Homo sapiens: one gene and its partner. The protein of the gene in region 1 purifies or fractionates together with the protein of each later gene. This does not show direct contact. Each region holds a gene or a part of one and is shown on either strand. Other genes may lie near its edges. The genes, in order: NMNAT2 and FBXO45.

The links.
Region 2: the proteins of NMNAT2 (region 1) and FBXO45 purify together in Homo sapiens (co-immunoprecipitation; 3 studies listed by BioGRID and IntAct, with this or other methods). This does not show direct contact.

What each region holds. Positions count from the first base shown.
Region 1 is NC_000001.11:183,289,369-183,296,645, reverse strand, and holds part of NMNAT2 (nicotinamide/nicotinic acid mononucleotide adenylyltransferase 2), read left to right. Parts: intron 1-2,852; coding exon 2,853-2,941; intron 2,942-3,788; coding exon 3,789-3,856; intron 3,857-6,439; coding exon 6,440-6,518; intron 6,519-7,277.
Region 2 is NC_000003.12:196,571,548-196,578,824, forward strand, and holds part of FBXO45 (F-box/SPRY domain-containing protein 1), read left to right. Parts: intron 1-5,905; coding exon 5,906-6,262; intron 6,263-7,277. UniProt on the Homo sapiens protein: Component of E3 ubiquitin ligase complex consisting of FBXO45, MYCBP2 and SKP1. Functions in substrate recognition but also plays an important role in assembly of the complex.

The DNA of each region.
Region 1 (7,277 bases):
AGCTACCTATGAGGCTGAGGCACAAGAATCACTTGAACCCAGGAGGCGGAGGTTGCAGTGAGCCAAGATGATGCCACTGTACTCCAGCCTGGGCAACAGAGCTAGACTCCATCAAAAAAAAAAGCAAATGTGACACACTTATCAGAGTGACACACTTATTAAAATCCAAATAATGCCAAATGCTGGTAAGAATTTGGAGCAACAGAAAGTCTCATTCATTCCTGGTAGGAATATAAAATGGCACAACCACTTTGGAAGACAATTTGACAGCCTCTTAAAAAGCTAAACATAATCTTACCATATGATTCATATGGCTCCTTGTGTAGATTCCCTAATTTACGTCTTCACAAAAACCTGCACATGAATGTCATATCAGCTTTATTTATAATCACTAAAAACTGGAAGCAGCAAAGATGTTCTTTGGTAGATGAATGGATAAACTGAAGTACTTCCAGACAATAGACTATCATTTAGTGATTAAAAGAAATGAGCTGCCGGCCGGGCGCGGTGGCTCACGCCTGTAATCCCAGCACTTTGGGAGGCCGTGGCAGGCGGATCTCCTGAGGTCAGGAGTTTGAGACCAGTTTGGCTAACATAGTGAAACCCCATCTCTACTAAAAATACAAAAAATTAGCTGGGCATGGTGGTAGGCGCCTGTAATCCCAACTACTTGGGAGGCTGAGGCAGGAGAATCGCTTAAGCCCGGGAGGCGGAGGTTGCAGTGAGCTGAGATGGCGCCACTGCACTCCAGCTTAGGGGACAAGAGCGAGACTTCCTCTCAAAGAAAAAGAAAGAAATGAGCTATCGAGCCATGAAAAGACATGGAGGAACTTTAAATGCATACTGCTTAGTGAAAACAGCAAGTCCAAAGAGGGTACATACTGTATGATTCCAACCATATGGCATTTTGGAAACGTCAAATCTATAGAAAAAGTAAACAGAACCGTGGTTGCCAGGGGTTTGGGAAAAGAGGAGGCATGAATGGGTGGAACACTGAATTTTTAGGGGATGAAAATACTGGGTATGATACTATAATGAAGGATACAATTGTCAAAACCCACAGAACTCTACAACACAGAGTAAATCTTAATGTAAACTATTGACTATAGTTAATAATGTGTTAATAATGATTTGTCAAGTATAACAAGTGTGCCACACTAGTGCAAAATTATTAATATAATGGGGGAAACTGCATGAAGGGAGGTAAAAAGGTGGGAGGGGTCTGAATATATGGAAGTCTATGTACAATCTGCTCAATTATTCTGTAAATCTAAAACGGTGTTACAAATAGTCTATTCATTTTTTTTTTAATCTAAGAAATTTCACATTGAAAGAAAAAGAAGCAGCCAAGTGCCGTGGCTCATGCCTGTAACCCTTGCATTTTGGGAGGCCAAGGCAGGCAGATCACTTGAGGCCGGGAGTTTGAGGCCAGCCTGGCCGACACGTGGAACCCGTCTCTACTAAAAATACAAAAATTAGCCAACCATGGTGGCTCATGCCTGTAATCTCAGCTACTTGGGAGGCTGAGGCATGAGAATTGCTTGAACCCAGGAGGTAGAGGTGGCAGTGAGCCAAGATCGCACCACTGCACTGCAGCCTAAGTGACAGCGTGAGACTTTGTCTCAAAAAACAAAGAAAGAAAGAAAAAGAAGCAAATATGGTGAGATCTTTTTTCAAGTGTTAAGAAATCCAGCAAAGTAATTCTGAAAACTTGCTTGTAAACTACACAGCCAGCTTTGCTGCCCAGGCCGCCTTCTACTTAAAAATTCCTTCACTATAAACTCCATGCTAGATTTTTCCTCAGTGGAATAAGCTCAGGCCCTGTTGACAATTTTTGTTTTGTTTTGTTTTGTTTTTAGATGGAGTCTCCCTCTGTCACCCAGGCTGGAGTGCAGTGGCACGATCTCAGCTCACTGCAATCTCTGCTGCCCGGGTTCAAGCGATTCTCCTGCCTCAGTCTCCCGAGTAACTAGGATTACAGGCGCCTGCCACCGCGTCTGGCTAAGTTTTGTATTTTTAGTAGAAAAGGGTTTCACCATGTTGGCCAGGCTGGTCTTGAACTCCTGACCTTGTGATCCACCTGCCTCGGCCTCCCAAAGTACTGGGATTACAGGTGTGAGCCACCACACCCGGCCCCTGTTGACATTCTTAAAAGGAATTGTTTTGGAAGTAAGATAGAACCAGACTTTTCAGTCCCTTCCTTGTTTGCCGAAATTTATTGCGAAAATAAAATTGGGTTTGTCTGATAGATTTGAAAAAGCAATATTGCATACCTTCCAAAGGATAAAAGGCTTTTATCTGGCCAAATTTTTCGTCTCAACCAAGTCTAAGATGGTGGTCTTCTGGGTTGATTGCTAATTCTTTGTAATTATCTACAAGGCCCTTTAAATTTGTTTTGGTGGTTTTTCTCTTCTGAATAATTAGATGAGGCAATCAGCACATCTTTCATATTATAAGGAGGCTTTTATTTATTTATTTTTTAAATACTACTCCTCCACATTATAACTCCTGCAAGTGACAATAGGGGTAAATTCCAATCTGTAGCTCTAATGGCTGCTAATGAGGCGCTTGTTTTAAATCCTTCTGAGCTACACTGGCTCCTCCCACAGAGGACTTTTAAAACAGGATGAATCTCCTTGAGTTCTAAATCCTTTTGCTTTGGGGGCTGAAATCTGGTTCTGTAACCTTTTGAATCACCAACATTTGCTTTGAAAGTTGACATTTTCTATTTAAATGGCAAGAGAGATGGGAAATAAACCCCAGCATTACAGAGCTGAGCGTATTGATTTCAATTATCACCTTTAATCCATGCCTTTCCTCTTTATAATGTGTGGGTTTCTTCTCTTAATTAGAAAGAGCCAGGGATTATCTGCACAAAACTGGAAGGTTTATTGTGATTGGCGGGATTGTCTCCCCTGTCCACGACTCCTATGGAAAACAGGTGGGTTCCTTCCTGTGCCCCTCTCCTCTTCAATCCCCGTCCCCCCATCCCTGGCCTGATAGTTCCTGGCAGAAAAACTGCCCCCGCTCTGTCTCTGCTAAGATTCCTGGAAACACAAAATGCCCAGGTCCATGCGTCTATCCTGCTTCCCATCTCAGGACCACAGTCGGACCTGAGTGGATGGGCGTTGAAGCAGTAGCTGGAAAGACCAGCTGTCCATGACCGTAGAGCCACTTACGGGCTGGTCAGGACTCACTGAAAGAGGAGCAGAAACACCCACTGGGTGTGGCTTGGTATGGTGGATGCCAGATTGGCAGCTGGTTATGGGTTGAGCTGCACTGGGCAAGTCTTCTCAGGATTTTAGGAGAAAACGGCCTATGCCTTTTATAATCTGATTTAAAATTCATATCCCTGCTCATCCCTCCCTGCCACGTGTCCCGGCAAATCTAGGAGCTCCACCCATCATTCCCCCTTTCTCCCACAGATGCACCTTGGTGGGCTCTGGGGAAACTCACCTAACCAGCCAGACTGAGCCATAAGACAAGGCCACATTTGCTGAGTTAAGTCTCATCTCTGCAGGGCACACAGGGGCTGCTTCGCAAATGGAGGCTCATCTATCGACCTTGTTGGGGTGGTATATACCACACACCCTTTATTTGTTTCCTTTCCCACCACCATTCCAGGCCTGCCTGTGTGGCAAACGGACAAGTAAAGGGGTCACATTCTTCATTCCCTCTCACCACTGAAAAATGGCTGCACTTTAACAATGGGTGGGCTTGGGCTGGTATCCCAAGGATGTTGTGGGGAACGGAGGGAGTCTCCCAATGATTGCTCTGTTGCTTCCCAGGGCCTCGTGTCAAGCCGGCACCGTCTCATCATGTGTCAGCTGGCCGTCCAGAATTCTGATTGGATCAGGTAGGACTGGCCTGAAGATGCCAGAGGCAGTGGCCCGGAGACTTACTGGGAGTGGGGTGGGGAAAAAAGAAGAGTTCCAGCAGTAATTTGGATCCTGAAAGGATGGGGAGGCAGGGGCAAGATATTAGCCTTGTGGAGGCAATAAGTAGACCTCCAGGGATACCTATAACTTTATTTTTGAACCAAACTGTGAGGCCCATGAATGTAAAGAATGTGCTTGAATGTTTCATCTGCTTTGACATCTCTGAATCCTGGCATGATTCTTGGAGCTTCCAGAAATATCACTGGGTTTTGGGTGAAGCATGACCAGAAAATCAGAAATGCCTCTCACTTTCATTCCCACTAACTTCCGCGAACCCTCACTACCTTTCAGGGAATGTTCCCTCACCTTGACAATTTCCCATTCCTGAACTCAGGCTCCCTAAGGGCCCCACACTGGCCCCAGGAGACAGGTGCGGGCCTGCCCCTAAGGGCAGCCACACCAAATCACACCCACTGGGTGGCTTTCCTGCTCACTGCCTTTCTGGCCAGACGTGCTGCTAGGAAGGCACCTCCACCCACCTCCGCTGAGCTTGCAGTGTAATTAAAGCAAGCTTCCACTAATTATGCTAATGATGTTCCCCAAAGTTCTTACCGTTATAATTTGCATGATAAGATGATGTTTTAAAAAAATAATGGCATGCCATTTGTGCTGTAATTTCCCCCACTATGGAAAAATAAGCAGCACCTAGAGGTTTCCATGAAAGGGGCGAAGTGACGGGATGCTGACCTCAGAATGAGGAATGCAGAGAGTTTGCCCAGGAAGAGCGGGGTGGGCGGGAATGAGAGCAGTGAAGGGAAGCCACAGTAATAATTCAGCAGTGATCCTTGCTATTTGTGCGCAGTGATTTGTGTGAGAAGCACATGCCCTTTATAGACTTTCTTATCCCCCTAAAGATAAAGCTTAGGTAGAGAGACAGCTGCTTTTTCTCAGGTGAGAAACAGGCCCAGAGAAATGAAAGGGCTTGAGCAATGATACATTGATACACCCGTAGGCAAGAAAGGATTAGAAATGAGGCCTCTTAACATTGTAAGTCCTGATCTTCTGGGGATGCTGGGGACCTTGAATAAGGGTCCAGTGAGGAAATCACTGGGCAGGAGACTGTTACTGCTTGGATGTGCTTAGAAGATTCTGGAATAATTCCCTCATGCATTCCACAACTATCTACTGAGTGCCTACCACCTTCCCTGGGCTGCTCTAAGTTGGAAAATCAGAATCCTGAGAATTGAGATCACTAGGGAGTCTAAGAGCTGCCTCTAGAGATGGGGTTGGCTGGGGTGGGGCGCCTGACACTGGGATCCCATTTAGCCAGGTGAAGTGTTTGTTTCCGGCACAGGTGCGCTCCCAGGGCACAGGGCCTGGCTAGGGATCTAGGGGGAGCCAGGGTCCCGGCAAATGGCAAGCTGACTCTCTAAGGGTTTTCAGCTAGTGGGATCTCATCTCTGGGCACTTTAGGCATGTGTATGTGGTGGGGTGGTGGGGTAGGGTGGTGGTGTTAAGGGGATGCATGACTGCTAAGAAAATGTTAGACAAGGCAGGGCACGGGGGCTCATGCTTGTAATCCCAGCACTTTGGGAGGCCGAAGTGGGCGGATCACCTGAGGTCAGGAGTTTGAGACCAGCCTGGACAATGTGGTGAAACCCCATCTCTGCTAAAAATACAAAAATTAACTGGGCATGGTGGCATGTGCCTGTAGTCTCAGCTACTCAGGAGGCTGAGGCAGGAGAATCACTTGAACCCAGGAGATGGAGGTTGCAGTGAGCCGAGGTCTTGCCACTGCACTCCAGCCTGGGTGACAGACCAAGACTCTGTCTAAAAAAAAATCATTAAGTTGGCAATTAAGCCCCAGTGCTGCCTCAGTCTGGGGCTGGATCCCTGCTTACGTCACAAGCAGTATCCCGGAGGGGCTGGCCATTGTTGTGTCTGCGCCCTCTCATCTGACTGTCATGTCTCACCTCCACGCCCACAAGGCACCTCACTGCAGAGGGAGGCAGGGAAGACTGATTCTCGAGGGTTTGCAGCCTGGCAAGGATAACCTGGGCCACCACTTGACAAAGGCCTGGCTCAGCTAATCCTTGTCACAATCCTCAAGGGTCCAAAGGAGGGTTTATTTTGCAGGTAACAATAAGAGCAAGATGCTGTACTGAGCATTGTACACATAAAACTTACCGAGCCTTTCTAACAAAACTGTAAGCTCGTTACTATTGTTATTCCCATTTTACAGATGGGGAAGGTGAGGCACTGGGAGATCACATAACTTTCCCAAAGCCACACAGTTGCAAAGAGCTGAGGCTGGAATTAAACCCAGGCAGACTGGCACCAGCATCTCTTCTCATAAGCCTATGCCATGCTCCTCTCATTTTACAGAGGAGGAAACTGAAGCTCAGAAGAGTGTTTCACACCCAGGTTTTATCTGATTCAAGATCTAAGCGCATGGTATGGCCAGATCTGCCATGCTTCCTGAGCTATGATTTTTGGAAGGTAACAATAAGGAAAGAATATGAGAACAGAAACCAAGGGAAACTTCTTTCCGATGATGTTAGGGTGGACCCTTGGGAGTGCTACCAGGACACCTGGCAGACGACCTGCAGCGTGTTGGAACACCACCGGGACCTCATGAAGGTGAGCTGGGCCAAGCCTGGGGATGCGTGAACCACCAGAGTGCAAGGGCGGAAGGGGCTGGACCCACAGAAACCAGGCAGGGAGAGGAGAGGGTGCTGCTGGCCTATCGACCTGCTTTCAGCCTCTTATTTCTCTGCCGGTTGTGAGAGAGACCAGCCTGTGAACAGCATGAAGAACAATGAATGAGGAACCCCGAGTAGCACCAGGGTCTGTTCCCTGTCTTCCACCCTCTGTCTTGACCTCCCATTTGGGGTGTTGCTGCTGGGTATGGTGGGCAGCTTTTATTAGCTGGGAGCAAGTTCAAGGTGGGATTAAGGAGACCACAGTGATAGGACTTCAGAAAGTGAGGGAGGAGGAAACTGGACAATGAAAGGCAGGAGAAGAGAGAAGCACTTAGGGGAGGTACAAGCAGCCTGTGGGGGCCCCACTGGCCCCCTTACTCCAGGACAGGCTGCTGTGGCTGGGGCACTTCACACCTGCCAGTCATTGCACCCCATTCCCACCCATTCCTCCTCACAAGAGCCCCACAGGCAGATGGTGTCTGATGCCTGTTTTATTAGTGGGTAAAAGGGATCACAGAGAGGAGTCCACATATCTGAGCACACACAGTGAGTGTTTGGTGAACACAGATAGGCGAGAGCTTCTGTATTCCCCATTGGGGCCTGGGGCCTGTGGCCGGGCTGCAGAGACTTCAGGGCTGGTTGCCAGGTTAGAATGGGCTCCATACCAGCCAGCAGCACTGGCCAGAGTGTGCAGAAA
Region 2 (7,277 bases), on another chromosome or scaffold:
ATAATTGACTTGTAATAGAAATGTTCACATGATTCAAGATTCATATTATAATATGTAATAGATAATGTGTTCGTGTGAGTCAAGCTTCAATAGAAGCAAAATGATATCAAGCAAAATGTTTTCCTTTCATCCTTGTCGCTCAGCTACCCGGTTCCTCTCCATGTATGCAACCTGTCTTACTTTTTCTTTTGTATCCTTCCAGAGATATTTTAGGTTTCTGAGGTTTTTAATACTTTGCTTTTCTGCTATGTGCATTATAGATGTTGTAGACTTGTACCAATCACTGTTCATTCACACATTGTAGGACTTCCCTTGAATATTTTGAGGATAAAAGATTAATTCAAAAGGAGTCAAATAGTCTAGTAGGAAATCTTTCAGTCTAGTAGAGGAGAGAAAAATGTATAGAAAGAACTGCTAATGTGTGGTAGAAATTGCTCCTTACTGTTACAGACATAAAAAAGTATACTAGAAGTTCAGTGAAAGGAGGAATTTACAAACTGAGTGGAGGATTGGAGGAGATTTGAGGTTGAGCTTATATTTGAGCTGAATTTTAAAGATGAGGAGGAGTTTAGTATTTTAGGAAGAGGAAGTACTCTGAGCAGAAGCAGGACAAGAGGAAAGTAAAGGGTTTGTACAACATATATTTTTATTTAAAAAAATGAGTGCCAGGCACTATGCTCATTTGCAGATGCAATGGCAAATAAAACAAACACAGTCTCTTAATGGATGTCTTGCCTTATGGAGCTTACAGTCTAGTAGGGGAAATGGATATTAATCAAATAATCACACAGATGTAAAACCGCATCTGGTAAGTAGTATGAAGGAAAAATACCTAGTGCTCTGATTGTCAGTAGTGGAGGATTTAACCTGGTGGAGAGGTGAGGGAAGGCTTTCTCAGATCCATGTACTGAGACCTGAAGGATGATAAGTAGGCAAAGGGGAGAGAGAACAGCCTTCCAGGAGGGAACCTTATGAGTGTGAGGGATGGAAAATATGTCAATGTGGCTGGAGCACAGAGAGCAAAGGTGATGCTGGTTTGAGATAAGATGGAAGAAGTGGACTGGGACCAAAGCGTAGGGAAGCCATTTTGAGTTGTAAGCAAGAAGGATTTGAGGTGTGGGGATTGGTGATATGATTATTTTGCATTTTAAGAGATTATTTCTGACTTTAGTATGGAGAACTAAATTGTTGGTTGGAAGAGGACCTTAGAAATATGGTAGATCAATTAGGAAATAGGTAGTGGAGGAGATAGAAATGGGCAGATTTAGTAAGTAAAATCTATAGAATTGGCAATAGATTTGAAATAGGGATGAGGAAGAGGGAAGTGGTAAGGATGACTCCTAGTATTTGGCTCACATAATGTAGAGATCAGTTGATCTAGATTTTTTTTTTGAGATGAGGTCTTGCTCTGTTGCCCTGGCTGGAGTGCAGTGGAATGATCATAGCTCACTGCAGCCTTGAACTCCTGGGCTCAAGCGATCCTCCCACTTCAGCCTTCTGTGTGGCTGGGACTACAGGCATGTGCCACCATGCCCAGCTAATTTTTATTATTATTTTTTTTTGTAGAGATGTCTCATTATGTTGCCCAGGCTGGTGGGCTAGGTTTCGAAGAAATGGCAGTGAGTTCAGTTTTGGGAGAGCAGCATTTACAGTATTTTTGAGACAGAGATTTCCAATAGGCAGCTGTTGGAGGTTGGAGCTTAGAGGAGAGATCTGCGCTAAAGATATAAAATAATATAGTTAGATTGAATGAAAGGAAGTAGTGGGAAATATTATAAAGCTATATTATGGGACTAGATATATCATGGAGGGCTTTGAAATATAGCCTTCAGTCTATAGTTTGGGTTTTGTACTACAGTTGTAAACCATAGAAGTTTGAACAGCAGAGTGACAAAGGCTCTACTTCAAAAAGACTAGGCCATAGATGAGTTGGAGAGGGCAGCGGTTAGTGCCTATACCAGAGATACTTAAGACTGGAACAGGTACATCGAGGAGAGAAGGGGATGGCTGGAGAGCTGTCGTAGAAAACAATATACATAGGTAGACAGCTGACTGGGTGAATGGGATGAGGAAGATGGATGTGTCAAATGGATTTTCCCAGGAGCCTGGATAACAGAGAATGATAGGAAAAGGTTTAGGGATAGCATAGAACAGGAAAGTGGAGTTTATTAATCTGTTCAGTTGTTTTTTTTTTAAGTTCATATTTTACATATCACCCCGTAGCATTAATTATTTAAGTCATACTTGGCATCTGATGAGAATTCTCTAAAGTTCAGACTTAGATTTTAAGCTAGGTCTTCATGCTGCTTTTGCCATAACAAAATTCAGGTTGTGCATGGGAATGTGAGGCTATGGGTTGTTTTTAATTTATTAATTTGGTCTTTATTTTCCTTTTTTTTTTTTTTTTTGAGACAGAGTCTTGCTCTGTTGCCCAGGCTGGAGCGCAGTGGCACAATTTCAGCTCACTGCAACCTCTGCTTCCTGGGTTCAAGTGATTCTGCCTCAGCCTCCCAAGTAGCTTGGATTACAGGAGCCTGCCACTACGTCCAGCTAATTTTTGTATTTTTAGTAGAGACAGGCTTTCACCATGTTGGCCAGGACGGTCTCGATTTCTTGACCTCGTGATCCGCCTGCCTCGGCCTCCTGAAGTGCTGGGATTATAGGTGTGAGCCACCATGCCCGGCCTATTTTCCCATTTCATATGAAGTTTCCAGTATCTGTTTCTAAAAAGTAAAGACACTTAATGTAATCACAATATGGTTATCACATCTAAATATAAATGTACATTAATTCCTTAATATCAAAAATGCAGTGTTCAAATTGCCAGTTGTCTCATAAATGTTAAATGTTGCATTTTAAAGTTATATTTTATATAATCAAGATCTATATAAGGGTCCCATGGCAAAGGTTGATATGTCTCTTAAGGCTATTTTAGTCTACATATTCACTCACCATCTCCCCAACCTCCCACCTTATTTGTTGAGGAAACAAGGTGGTTTACTCTCAGCTCGATTTTGCGGATTTCATTATCATCGTGTTGCTTGACATGTTCTTCTGTCCTCTATTTCCTACTGAGGTGTGATCAATTTAGATTAGATTAGATTTTTTTTGCAAGTTATTTTGTACTAGACTCAGTGGTTAAAAGTGTGTTAGAAAATAAGAGCTGCTAAATTGTTACGTGGCACAGAAAGTGGTGGGCAAGCACCCGGCAGAGAGAGACATCAAGGGAATTGGGTGGCCCTGGTTAAGAATAGCTTAATAGAGGTGATCTTAGAGAATGTGTGGGAGAAGAAAGCACATATAATACTTTCAGCAAGAAGAACATCATCAAGGTAGAAAGGGAAATAGGAAGAATCAGATTTGGAGGGCTGTGAAAGCCAGGCAGAAGAATTTGCAGTTGGTGATGCTACTAAGTATGGAACTACCAGAGGTTATAGAACTGGGATGAGATATGTAGTAAAGGTGCTGTTTTAGAAAGACAGGTTTGGAAATAATTCAGATAGAGAGTTGAGGACTGAGTTTGGAGAATTTGGTTGGGGCAGAGGAAGGGTGGTCACCAAAAAAGGAAATGATACAGGATCAGTTCAGGGAAATAGGAAGATGTCATAGAAGTTTGAGGAAGAGAGGGCCGGGCGTGGTGGCTCACGCCTGTAATCCCAGCACTTGCGGAGGCCAAGGCAGGCGGATCACCTGAGGTCAGGAGTTTGAGACCAGCCTGGCCAACATGGTGAAACCCTGTCTCTATTCAAAATTCAAAAATTAGCCGGGTGTGGTGGTGCACGTCTGTAATCCCAGCTACTCGGGGGAGGCTGAGACAGGAGAATCGCTTGAACCCAGGAGGCAGAGGTTGCAGTGAGCTGAGATTGAGCCACTGCACTCCAGCTTGGGTGACAGAGTGAGACTCTGTCTCAAAAAAAAAAAAAAAGAAAAGGAAGTTTAAGGAAGAGGTTGTCAATAGTGTCAATGTGAAATTGGAATTTATAAGAATTGGGGAGTAGGCATAGGGAAATATTAATTAAATATTTTATAGTGAATTATTGATATTATTCTCTTGAGTTATTTAGACAGTATTTGCTATTTTGGGGACATGTTCCTTCCCCATTTAATCTTCTTTTCCTTTCTTTTCTTTGTTTCTTTTTTTTTTTTTGAGACAGGGTCTCACTTTGTCACCCAGGCTGGAGTGCAGTGGTGTGATTTTGGCTCACTGCATCCTCTGCCTCCTGGGCTCAAGCATTCCTTCTGCCTCAGCCTCCCAAGTAGCTGGGATTACAAGCGTGCACTGCCACGCCCAGCTAATTTTTTGTATTTTTACTAGAGTTGGGGTTTCGCCATGTTGCCCAGGCTAGTCTTGAACTCCGAGTTCAGGCGATTTGCCCACCTTGCCTTCCCAAAGTGCTGGGATTGCAGGGGTGAGCCACCGCGCCCGGCCCCTTCATTGAATCTTACGTTTTGGTCTTATAAGTGCCTTAAAGTATTTTATAATACGAGCAGATAGGAAAAACATTGGGAATGCCTCAGTTTTATTGTGAATGCATGGGATACTGGAAACAAATAGTTCTCTGTTTTTAAATCTGCGCTCTGCAGCTCACTGAAACGGTAGAGTGCCAGCGAATGGTAAACGAACAGGTGGTGAGGGGACTGGATCCTTGATCTCTCTTTGGGCCTCTTGCACTAACTCGCGGTTGAAATCCCTGAGAAGGACTAGGTGACCTTTAAGGGTCTTCCTAAATGCTGACATTCTATGCCTCTGGAGTTGATTTTTCTCAGGTTAGCTGAAGCATAGGTCCCAGCCTTCCACTGCTTTGGGTAGTTTGACTAAAGTAGAGAAGGGATTTTTTAAAAACATACTAGCCAGGCAGGCGTAGTGACTCGAACCTGTAACCCCAGCTACTCGGAAGACTGAGATGGGAGTATCACTTGAGCCAAGGAGTTCAAGGCTGCAGTGCGCTACGATTGTGCCACTGCACTGCAGTCTGGGTGACAGAGTGAGACGTTGTCTAAAAAAAATTTAAAATACACAAACTAAAAGTTTAAAATTGTTTATGAGAAATTGTTATTGTTTGTATAGAAGAGCTATTTTCATACCCTCTTTATTTTGGAAGTGTAAACCTTTGTATTTACTGAAGAGTCAACTAACTTGTCTTATTGATAGCTTCTCTTCATAAATTCTAGTAGTTGAACCTAGATGCTATCTAAGGGATTATTTGATTTGGTAAAATGAGATTGGTGATTTTTTTATTGTGTAAGTCATATCCAGCAAGTAGGCTGAGGATCTAAGGTAGTTTGTGTTTACTAAAATTTTTCATAAACTTTAGAGCTGCTAGGATTAAAGTTTCTGTTTTATGTAAAATATAATTCTTTTTGATGACAGCATTGCCCATATGAAAACTGTACATCTCAACTTTTTGGTATAAAAATATCAAATATAAACAAAAGTAGAGAAAATAGTTTGATGAACTTCCTTATACCCATCACCAAGCTTTGCCAATGATTAATTTATGGCCAGTCTAGTTTCATGTTTCTATTGCACACTCTCCCACTCCATCTCTGGATATTTCAAAGCAATTCCCAGATACCATTATTTTATCCATAAACGTTTCAGTATTATCTGTAAGATATAAGGATTTTTCTTTTTTGTATCTTTTGATGTTTTAAGAAGTCTGTTTGAGGAAATACTACAATTTAAAATTTTGGTCAGTGATGAAACGGTTGGCATTTATTTTTTAATGTTATTTATTCTGTTAGTATTCCATCCTGAAACTTCAGCCATTATTTGGAAATACTTGTGTTATTTTAAAATATATAACTTCGTTATTTAAAAACATACAGCGTGAAGTTTGGGTAATTTTTAATATTTAAGAAAAATAAAATTGTTATTTATTTGGTCTGTTTTTCATCTTTTTAGATACGTGCTTTTCAACATGCCTTCAGCACTAATGACTGCTCCAGGAATGTCTACATTAAGAAGAATGGCTTTACTTTACATCGAAACCCCATTGCTCAGAGCACTGATGGTGCAAGGACCAAGATTGGTTTCAGTGAGGGCCGCCATGCATGGGAAGTGTGGTGGGAGGGCCCTCTGGGCACTGTGGCAGTGATTGGAATTGCCACAAAACGGGCCCCCATGCAGTGCCAAGGTTATGTGGCATTGCTGGGCAGTGATGACCAGAGCTGGGGCTGGAATCTGGTGGACAATAATCTACTACATAATGGAGAAGTCAATGGCAGTTTTCCACAGTGCAACAACGCACCAAAATATCAGGTGAGAAACTGGGGTTTTTCTCAAGTATGGGCCTTTGTCAAATCACGCCTTAATTTGTTTTAAATTTACAAATTTTTATATAGCAGTTTTTGTCTTTTTGGTAATTTTTATTTTTATTATTTTTTTATTTTTTCAGATACCCAGACTTCAAGGAGATTTTTTTTTTTTAATGTTAGGGGGTTATAGTTAATTTTGTTGGGTGTTATATTTTGATTTTGGCTATGCAGAAAAATATTCTTTTTTTTTTTTTAGACAGAATCTCACTCCGTTGCCCAGGCTAGAGTGCAGTGGCGCCAACTCGGCTCACTGCAACCTGCACCTCCCAGGTTCAAGCAATTCTCTGCCTCAGCCTCAGTAGTTGGGATTACAGGCGCCCACCACCATGCCTGGCTAATTTTTGTATTTTTAGTAGAGACAGGGTTTCACCATCTTGGCCAGGCTGGTCTTGAACTCCTAACCTCGTGATTCACCTGCCTTGGCCTCCCAAAGTGCTGGGATTACAGGCGTGAGCCACCATGCCCAGCCTCAAGGAGATTTTTTGACCATTTTTAAATAAATGTATAAATGATCTATCTCAATATTTGTTTCCTAATACAACTTTAAGCAGCCTATTTTTGCTCCAGATCAGGGGTTGGCAAACTTTTTGTAAGGGCCACGTAGTAAATCTTTAAGTCTTTGCAGTCCATATGGTCTCTGTCACAACTTTTTTTTTTTAATGTCATTTTCAAGGTAAGGATCTATCACGAGTTTCAACTCTATTTATAGTACAAAAGCAGTCATCGATAATACGTAAATGAACGAACATGGCTGTATTCCATAGACCTTATTTATGGGCTGCAGGACAGATTTGGTCCAGGGGCTGTAGTTTGCCAGTTCATGCTCTATATCAAGCTTGTCCAACCCACAGCCTGCATGCAGCCCAAGATGGCTTTGATTGTGACCCAATGCAAATTCATAAACTTTCTTAAAACATTATGAGATTTTTTTGCAATTTTTTTTTTTAAAGCTGATTAGC